Linked DNA regions of Homo sapiens. The protein of the gene in region 2 interacts with the protein of the main gene of each other region in a biochemical or structural test. Each region holds a gene or a part of one and is shown on either strand. Other genes may lie near its edges.

The links.
Region 1: of the proteins of MST1 (region 2) and TNNT2, one has a biochemical effect on the other in vitro, tested with the Homo sapiens proteins (one study listed by BioGRID).

The regions. Positions count from the first base shown.
Region 1 is NC_000001.11:201,363,604-201,368,535, forward strand, and holds part of TNNT2 (troponin T, cardiac muscle), read right to left. Parts: intron 4,625-4,932; coding exon 4,559-4,624; intron 4,204-4,558; coding exon 4,168-4,203; intron 3,269-4,167; coding exon 3,235-3,268; intron 2,068-3,234; coding exon 2,007-2,067; intron 1,705-2,006; coding exon 1,588-1,704; intron 773-1,587; coding exon 695-772; intron 1-694. UniProt on the Homo sapiens protein: Troponin T is the tropomyosin-binding subunit of troponin, the thin filament regulatory complex which confers calcium-sensitivity to striated muscle actomyosin ATPase activity.
Region 2 is NC_000003.12:49,682,339-49,687,172, reverse strand, and holds the end of MST1 (hepatocyte growth factor-like protein isoform 1 precursor), read left to right. Parts: coding exon 1-24; intron 25-105; coding exon 106-226; intron 227-370; coding exon 371-489; intron 490-691; coding exon 692-860; coding exon of another isoform or gene 861-865; intron 866-980; coding exon 981-1,111; intron 1,112-1,210; coding exon 1,211-1,313; intron 1,314-1,440; coding exon 1,441-1,577; intron 1,578-1,666; coding exon 1,667-1,702; intron 1,703-1,790; coding exon 1,791-1,911; coding exon of another isoform or gene 1,912-1,951; intron 1,952-2,083; coding exon 2,084-2,161; intron 2,162-2,217; exon of another isoform or gene 2,218-2,288; coding exon 2,289-2,435; intron 2,436-2,516; coding exon 2,517-2,623; intron 2,624-2,719; coding exon 2,720-2,859; intron 2,860-2,983; coding exon 2,984-3,145; 3' UTR 3,146-3,226; downstream 3,227-4,834. Other genes in the region: APEH (acylamino-acid-releasing enzyme), read right to left, coding at 3,831-3,936, 4,027-4,133, 4,228-4,330, 4,437-4,627, 4,737-4,825.

The DNA of each region.
Region 1 (4,932 bases), on a different chromosome or scaffold from region 2:
GGTCCTGATTCCCAAATGTGAGGTCTCGTCATCCCCTTAAGCTGGGAGTGCCCCTGGAAGACCTGTTGCTCTGGAAATGCCTTCAGCAGCTGCACAGGAAGAGAGCTACGGGGCCTTCGGTTCCCACGAAGTCTGCACTGGGGAAGGGATGAGGGCTGGAGAGTCTTATAAAATAACACGTTCATAAGGACGCAGGCATTTCTGTCTTGTTTGCTGATGTATTATCAGAGCCAAGACAATGCCCAGCACTTCCTAGGTTGATATTGATATTGTCTCTTTTTTTTCCTTTTTTTTTTTTTTTGAGTTGGAGTTTCACTCTTGTTGCCCAGGCTAGAGTGCAATGGCATGACCTCGGCTCACTGCAACCTTGCCTCCTGGGTTCAAGCGATTCTCCTGCCTCAGCCTCCTGAGTAGCTAGGATGACCGGCATGTGCCACCACGCCTGGCTAATTTTGTATTTTTAGTAGAGACAGGGTTTCTCCGTTGGTCAGGATGGTCTCGAACTCCCAACCTCAAGTGATCTACCCGCCTTGGCCTCCCAAAGTGCTGGGATTACAGGCGTGAGCCACCGCACCCGGCCAATATTGTCTCTTGACTGATTTCATTCATGTTGATGAATAGAGAGGGGCCTGGGGGCCCAGCAGGAGCTGGGAGCATGGGGGGCCTCCATGGGCCTGGGCTAGGGGTCACTCACAGCCAGGCGGTTCTGCCGCTCCTTCTCCCGCTCATTCCGGATGCGCTGCTGCTCGGCCCGCTCTGCCCGACGTCTCTCCTAAGGAGAAGAGGCAAAGCCCACCCAGGTGTGCATAGGGAGAAGGTGACATCGCAGGTACAGAAACCTGCATGGGGTGGCAAGGGAATTCCTGGGGGAGGGTTCCTTCCAGAGTCTTGAAGCAATGGTGCCCGGCCTCCAAGGGCCTCCACTTTCAACCAGCTCCACGGACGTGCACACCAGGGTACCTGCAGTGACCCACCTCCAACATTCCTCATGGTGAGACTGCCCTCCACAACTGGGAGACATCAGGCAGGCTCCTTCTGGGCTCTGCCCCCACCTCCATCCCACCCTGCCCTGGCAGCTGCTCTGTGCCATATGCTTGGATAGATGGCCAAGTCATTGCTCCAGCCAGAGCAGCATGTCTGTGGGAAGGCAAGTTTGATGGGGAGAAACAAAAGCAATCAAAGCAGCCTCCACGCTCTGCAGGAGAAGGATGTGGGATTCTGCAGGTCACACTCCCCTTCATCTGCGGGGGAAGAGGAGGCAAGGGCAGGGGTGGCGCAGCAGGCCTGTGACCAATCAGTCCACAGCCCGGGCCTGAATTAGGCCCTGGGGGAGGCCTGAAACAGATCAGACTCAGCTCTGGCAGTCAAGGAGCATCCAGTAGGATGGGGAGGGAAGGCAGGGACCCGAGAAACCAGTCAGGGCTGCAGGAGCTGTGCAGAATGCTGGAGGGCCTCTGAAGGAGACCTCACACCTAGCTGGGTTTGAGGCGCCGAGGAAGGCTGTCTGGAGGAGGTGGGGCCTCACAAAAGGGATGGAGGACAGACTGGGCCATCAGAGAATGTTAGGTGGGCAGACTGGACACCTACGATCCTGTCTTTGAGAGAAACGAGCTCCTCCTCCTCTTTCTTCCTGTTCTCAAAGTGAGCCTCGATCAGCGCCTGCAACTCATTCAGGTCCTTCTCCATGCGCTTCCGGTGGATGTCCTGTGGGTGGACCGCTGCGGCTCAGAGGCTGCCACTCCAAAGAGTCCAGAGGAGAGATGGGTGGGCTAGACACCCCCCAACGCAGTGCAAAAGACCTCTGGCAGGGCCTGGCGCCTGGCCAGGGAAGGGGTAACTGTGGCCTGAACCCAGGACCACGCTCATGGATGGGCACCCAGCCTGGCTGGTGCTGCACCCCATCCCACCTATGCTCTACCCCAGCCCAAGGTCACAAAATCTCTGTCACTGAGGGCCCTTGGGACTATCCCCAGCCCAGGCCTACTCAACCCACAGCCACCGCTTACATCAAAGTCCACTCTCTCTCCATCGGGGATCTTGGGAGGCACCAAGTTGGGCATGAACGACCTGTTGGAGAGAGGAATAGTCAGCATCAGCCCCATTCTGGACCCAGGGACTGAGGGTGTCCAGGACAGGCAGGGCCCTGATCCTTCCTAGAGAATCTTCCAGCACTGCCCCGACCAACCACAGCAATGATAGTAACACTGACGTCAACAATGGCAGTCCTCAGCCTTGCTCAGCACCTGGGAATACACAAAGCTCTTTCACATATGCTATTTCACTTCATGCTCATGATATGCCCATGAAGTGGGTACCGTTAATCTCACTTAGGAGAACTGAGGCTCAGGGAGGTAGAATGACTTGCTCAAAGCCACACAACTTGGAATCAAAGAAGCTGTGACAAGATGCCATGCTTCTTGGACTTCAAATCCCCTGGTGGACCCCGCAGAAACTGGCCATGAACCTGGGAGTCTTGCAGTTTGGTCCTGGTCCCAACACATACTGAGACCCAGGGGGTTCTCTGATTCTTCATGTCCCCATCTGCCCTCAGGTGTGTGGAGCTGAAATGAGATACCGCAGTGCACAAGAGGCCAGGAAGGGGGAAGGCACTGGGCAAATAAATGGATCTGGGATGTCTTGGGCTGGTTTCAGAAGGCCCCACTGAAATGGGAAGAGCCTGTGAGTGGGCAGAGGTGCCATGGGTCAACCTCTGCTGGCAGGGTTGGCATCATAAAAAGGGAAATGCTCCCTATCCCCCAGCCCCCCCCAGCACACACCACCTTCAGGTGGGCTTCACGTGTGTGGCACCAAGCCGTCCTGCCCTCTCTCAGCTCTCTGAAGCCGCCATGCCTATGCTGGCACGGTTTCATTGTTTGGCTCCCCACAATTTGCTTCCCTTAATCCCAAGGTCCCACCTCGGCCATGGAGGAGGGTGTTCTGGCCATACTGTGAGAGAGGAGAGTGTCCGTTCAGGGCCCTTCCTCTAGAAGAACATAGCCCCATCCCTGCTAGGGTGCACGATTGGTGATGGAGTGTTGGGTGGAATTCAGCCCTCACTCACTCCCTTAGGAAGAGACGCTTGTGCAGTACACAACTTGTACAACTGTACTGTGGTGCTCTGTGCCCACCAAACCCCCAGCCCGTGTCCACTGCACCATACTGCACCCCGTTCCATCATCATCCTCTCTCCCTGAGCCTCTGCTCCCGGCTCTACCCAGGTGCCTCCCCACTCACCTGGGCTTTGGTTTGGACTCCTCCATTGGGCCATCTGGAGGAGATAGAAGCACACAGCCATGGGTCAGGGGGCCCCAGAAGTGGTCCCAACTCCGCCCTCGATGAGCTAGATCCCTGTGGATTTCCATTTCCCCATCTGCACAGTGAGTCCCTCCCGGCACTGGGGAGCCCTGATTCCAGAAGCATCCAGGAGAATGAAGGCAGCGGGGGCTGCAGATGCCACACTCCCCCTCCCATAGAGTTCTGCAGGGCACACACTCACGCAGTGTGGAACTTCACACAAAGCCTTCTCTCACTCACCAGTTCTGGGCAAAGCAATTTTGCTTCTCTTGTGCTTCACAGTGACAAGGCCTTTGGAAAGGTCCCCAAGGGTCCTGGCCCTAGAATCCCCTCCCAGGTCTTTGCCTTCTTTGTTACCCCTTGGACTTCCCGGTGGCCACAGGGCAGAAGCTGATGACATGATTCCAAGCCCCAGCTGGTTGTCCCCTCCCCTTTGGAGAAGTGACTGGGACCACTTAGAACCCTGGTGAAGGCTGCAGCATGACGATGACTGCAGCAATGACCCACCATGACCATCTATGCATTGGGATTTCATCCTACGGACACCACATCCTACAAGTGATTTCACCTAAGCTCTAGGAGCTTCATGTGTGGATATGACTTCTGGGTCCCATTGCTCTGTCCAGACCAGGGGGCTGGACAATGGTCCCCTCTCCCACTGGGTGCCACCAATGCAACTTCTCTGGGAGAAGGGGCAAAGTTGAAAGCTCAACATCTAAAACTTTGGAAGTGCCACCAAGTTCTGTCCTCTCCTCTCCCAAACCCTCTCAGTGCACATCCACTTCCCTGGAAAGAGCACTGTGGGCATTCTCCTCCAAAGCTGCTGTGAGGGGTTCCTTTGCCTCCCTTGTACCTCTCTCCTGATATCCTTACCTTCAGCCTCCTTTGCTTCCTCTTCTTCTTCATCTTCTAAATGAAACACGAGAAATCAATCAAGGTCCTTGTTCTGAGCTCAAGTCCCCCCCTCCGCCACCAGCAAGAGCCTTCCCCACAGATAAGCCCTAGCCAAGATGCACTCTGTTGGTTTTTGGGGTTACAGAGCTGTCTCTCACACACACATTCCCCTGGACCCAAGACTGCCTGACACAAGAGAAGCGCTGGGTCAACGTTTGTTGATTGGGCAATCAATGGTTGAATCTTAGTCAATAGGAGAGTCAGGTGCACATGGGAAAGCCTGTTCTGGGGGGTTTCTTACTGCCTCAGGAATGGCTCCAGGGGCTCTCGCCACCCCCTGAGGCCCCTGCACCCTCAACCAGAGACTTACCTTCTGCCCTGGTCTCCTCGGTCTCAGCCTCTGCTTCAGCATCCTCTTCCGCTGCCTCCTCCTGCTCTGGAGAAGTGAAGCAGACAGAGTGAAGAAGCAGGCCCCACTCATGCTATCAGGCAGAACCCAGAGCAGAGAATGGGCAGCGGGGAGTGGGGATGGGGGTCAAGACGTCTAGGTCCAGATGAATTTGGGGGCAACCAACGTGCTGGGGGGCTGCCATTCTTGGTTTTGACTGTCGGCTACCTCCCGCCACCCAGCTTAGCCCCACTCATCCCGGCAACCTCCCTGATGATGGGACTCCACCTCATTCCCCAACTTTCCAGCCCAGAAGTTCCACCCCGTGTCTGGCACCACAGAACATGCTCTGCTTA
Region 2 (4,834 bases):
GCGGCATCAAATCCTGCCGGGAGGGTAAGCGGCGCCGGGTCAAGCTGGGAGAGTGGAGGGACAAGCCCACGTCCATCCACGAACCCACTGGCTCTTTGTCTCCAGCCGCGTGTGTCTGGTGCAATGGCGAGGAATACCGCGGCGCGGTAGACCGCACGGAGTCAGGGCGCGAGTGCCAGCGCTGGGATCTTCAGCACCCGCACCAGCACCCCTTCGAGCCGGGCAAGTACGCGTAGGCGGTATCGGCGTCCTGGGGGCCGGGCTAGGGAAGGTCCAGGACTCCAGGGGCAGGGCTCCGTGTAGGGCAATTGGGCGGGGCCAGATAAGCCAGAGTCCCAGGGTCTTGTTCACGCCCCATTACCGCCCCCAGGTTCCTCGACCAAGGTCTGGACGACAACTATTGCCGGAATCCTGACGGCTCCGAGCGGCCATGGTGCTACACTACGGATCCGCAGATCGAGCGAGAGTTCTGTGACCTCCCCCGCTGCGGTAGGCGGCGGGGACCAGGCCTGGGAGGGTACCTGGGAACCTTGGGGAGGGGCGTGGCTTGGCCGGGGAGGTAAGAGGGGCTGGGCGTGACCTGAGAGCATACCCCGTGGAGTACCGTACACCTGGGAAAGGCGGGTTTGGTCCCAGCCCCAGAGGGATCTCAGCTCTCGCTCGGGGCCCGACCTATCTCGGTCCATCTAAGGGTCCGAGGCACAGCCCCGCCAAGAGGCCACAACTGTCAGCTGCTTCCGCGGGAAGGGTGAGGGCTACCGGGGCACAGCCAATACCACCACTGCGGGCGTACCTTGCCAGCGTTGGGACGCGCAAATCCCGCATCAGCACCGATTTACGCCAGAAAAATACGCGTGCAAGTGAGGTGGGGGGGGGGGGCGGGCGTTGGGACGTGCTGCTGCGGGTGAGACGGGAGGAAGGTAGTCACGGGCTCAAGGCTGGAGGCTGGCGGGCTAGGGCTGAGTGGAGCGCCTGCTTAGAGACCTTCGGGAGAACTTCTGCCGGAACCCCGACGGCTCAGAGGCGCCCTGGTGCTTCACACTGCGGCCCGGCATGCGCGCGGCCTTTTGCTACCAGATCCGGCGTTGTACAGACGACGTGCGGCCCCAGGGTGAGGCCCAAGCTTGGGGGCTACAGAGCCGGGCTGGAAGCCTGGAACCGGAGGGCCGGGGCGAGGTCTCGGCCTGATGGCTGCCCGCACCCGCCACAGACTGCTACCACGGCGCAGGGGAGCAGTACCGCGGCACGGTCAGCAAGACCCGCAAGGGTGTCCAGTGCCAGCGCTGGTCCGCTGAGACGCCGCACAAGCCGCAGTGAGTCCCTGGTGCTCCCGGCCCCGCCAGGGCCCTAACCCTGGGGCGGCATGCTTTGGTGTCTGGGACCAGAGCCTGGAAATGGTTGAGACTACCCTGCCACGATTTTGCTCCCGCTTCCGCCTAGGTTCACGTTTACCTCCGAACCGCATGCACAACTGGAGGAGAACTTCTGCCGGAACCCAGATGGGGATAGCCATGGGCCCTGGTGCTACACGATGGACCCAAGGACCCCATTCGACTACTGTGCCCTGCGACGCTGCGGTGAGCACTAGTGACGCTTCCCCCATGACCCTGCCTCAGCCCCCACCCAAAGGCTGGCTCCCTTAACCCCAGTGAACTTTGTCTTTCAGCTGATGACCAGCCGCCATCAATCCTGGACCCCCCAGGTTAGGAGTTGGGCCAGTTATGGGTCAGGCCCTTTAGCCCACGACATCCACACAGTCTGGGTTTCATCCAGCCCACCCCATCCTACAGACCAGGTGCAGTTTGAGAAGTGTGGCAAGAGGGTGGATCGGCTGGATCAGCGGCGTTCCAAGCTGCGCGTGGTTGGGGGCCATCCGGGCAACTCACCCTGGACAGTCAGCTTGCGGAATCGGTGAGGCACAACTGCCTGTCTCCCACAGAGAGGAGCTGAGGTTGTGTCCTCTGTGGTTATCCCACTGGGGGCTGGGAATCTATCCCTGCCCCCAGAGGTCCTAGCCAGAAGATGGCAGGTCTAGCATCTGTCCCAGGAGTCTGTTACCTGTCCTAATTCCCCACTCCTCTAGGCAGGGCCAGCATTTCTGCGGGGGGTCTCTAGTGAAGGAGCAGTGGATACTGACTGCCCGGCAGTGCTTCTCCTCCTGGTGAGCCTCCCTTGTGTTTGGGGACCCAGTCTCATCCCACCTTCCCCCTTCCCCAGGCAAGCTAACAAGTGAGCCTTGGGGCAATGGACTGAGAGTCACAAATGACCTAGCAGAGCTTCTCTCCCAGCCATATGCCTCTCACGGGCTATGAGGTATGGTTGGGCACCCTGTTCCAGAACCCACAGCATGGAGAGCCAAGCCTACAGCGGGTCCCAGTAGCCAAGATGGTGTGTGGGCCCTCAGGCTCCCAGCTTGTCCTGCTCAAGCTGGAGAGGTATGTGGACAACCTGGGAGGGTGTGAGGTGGGGCTGGGCCTTGTGGCCTCAGACCCTGAGTGCCCCCATTCTTGCTAAAGATCTGTGACCCTGAACCAGCGTGTGGCCCTGATCTGCCTGCCCCCTGAATGGTATGTGGTGCCTCCAGGGACCAAGTGTGAGATTGCAGGCTGGGGTGAGACCAAAGGTAAGAGCACAGTGCACAGGACTGCTGGTGGCCAGGAGGCCCAGCCCTGGATCTTCCTGCAGGACCCTCTCCCTCTCCCCATTCCCCTCACTGCAGGTACGGGTAATGACACAGTCCTAAATGTGGCCTTGCTGAATGTCATCTCCAACCAGGAGTGTAACATCAAGCACCGAGGACGTGTGCGGGAGAGTGAGATGTGCACTGAGGGACTGTTGGCCCCTGTGGGGGCCTGTGAGGTTGGTGGCAGGGCCCTGGGCCAGCCCTGGAAGGGTATGGGGGGCTAGAAATGAACTATTTTATCATGAAGCAGGCTAGTCATTGCTGTGGCCCGGGGCCCTCATCAGTTCTCCTACCTGCCAGGGTGACTACGGGGGCCCACTTGCCTGCTTTACCCACAACTGCTGGGTCCTGGAAGGAATTATAATCCCCAACCGAGTATGCGCAAGGTCCCGCTGGCCAGCTGTCTTCACGCGTGTCTCTGTGTTTGTGGACTGGATTCACAAGGTCATGAGACTGGGTTAGGCCCAGCCTTGATGCCATATGCCTTGGGGAGGACAAAACTTCTTGTCAGACATAAAGCCATGTTTCCTCTTTATGCCTGTACAGATGCTTCTTAGCCTTTGCTTCCAGGAAATGTGTCAGTGACTCCTTGCTAGGGCTCGGGTGGCTTGAGCCCAGCACACCCTGGGCTAGGTGATCTGTCCAGCCTAGGGGCTTCCCCAACCAAGGCAATGTCCCTGGGACTACTTTTGCCCATGGGTGCCGTGGAAAGACAGGGCCTCACACTAGTCCTCCAGACATACTCTTGGGAAGGGTGGTACAGAGTAGTTGCTAATGGAAGGGGCTGCAGCAGGGAAGCTAGGCTGGTACAGAGTCCTGGTTGCCAGGACAGGCAGAGGCTAAGCCTCTCACTGTTCCCTCCCTTCTCACACTGGAGGCAGATGAAGCCCTTGTGGCTGCCACACCCAGAACCTAGGGTCTCTGCACCCCAGAGTGGGAGGTGGGGTTGGGGATGGTTTGGTACAAAGTACCAGCAGGAACCAGGCTCTGTGTCCTAATTTATTATGACTACATAGCCCACATTCCTCTGCCCACGCATCCGTGGAGTCCAGAGCCCAGAAAGCCTCCTGCTGCCCTGCCAGACCGTTGAGCTCCTCAAGAGCGAAGTGTGGCACAGGCTGATCAGCTCATGCAGAATGGCAGGGCTTCAGCTGCCCAAGTGTGTGCGTAGCCAGAGCACAGCATTCATGAAGCTGTCTGACTCCACCTCCACCTCTGATAATGCGTGGGTGCTTTTGGGATAGAGCAGGAGCCTGTAGGGATTAGTCAGCAACATTTAAGGTTGGAGGGTCCTCCTGTGCTCACCTGCCCACCAGCTGCCAGGGCCTTCATGCTGCACTCACCGAACAGGCACATTCCGGGTCTTGAGGGCACGGTAATACTCCATGCCCTGCTTGAAGGGCACACGCCGGTCCTCCTGGCCCAACATCAGTAACAGTGGTGTCTTCACCTGGGTGTTTGGGGAAGAGTGGGGAGCTGTGTTGAGCTGGGCCCTGGATTCTGGATGGATGGGCAGCACACAGGGCAAGGAGGGGGCTGCATACCTGAGGGATGTATCTGATGGGCGATTTGTCCAGCATCTCAGCCCACACGCTGAGGTCTGGCAGGCAGTCACTGCTGAAAGGAAAGCCAGCCTCCACCACGCACCTGCAAGACACCGAGCTGTTGCAGCCCCAGGAATTCTGGGGCTACGGGGCTCCATGAGAATTTGAGGTAGAGGAGGGAAGGGCAGGGACCTGTGGTGTATGCCTACCAGTCAGGGATGTCAGTGGAGCCCAACATGGAGGCGATGTTGATCACGGGGTTCCGGGCCACGCAGGCCCTGTAGGTCTCTGGGTACTGACCAATCAAGTGGCAGGAAATGAAGCCACCATGGGAACCACCCATAAGGGCCACATGGCTTGCATCAAAGTGTTCCTCCTGGAGCACCTGTTCCACTGCAAACTGCAGGGTGGGACAAAGCATGCTGCAGCCAGCTGCCCGCTCAGCTGAATGGAGGCATCCCCCTGGCAGCCCATGTTTCAGCCTGTCCAGAAGCCCCAGCCCCTGCTACCTGGACATCCTTCACATCCTGGTGGCCCACATTGCCTGGGAGGGAGAGGATGCTGTCCTGGCCAAAGCCCGTGGAGCCACGATAGTTCACTGAGGGCA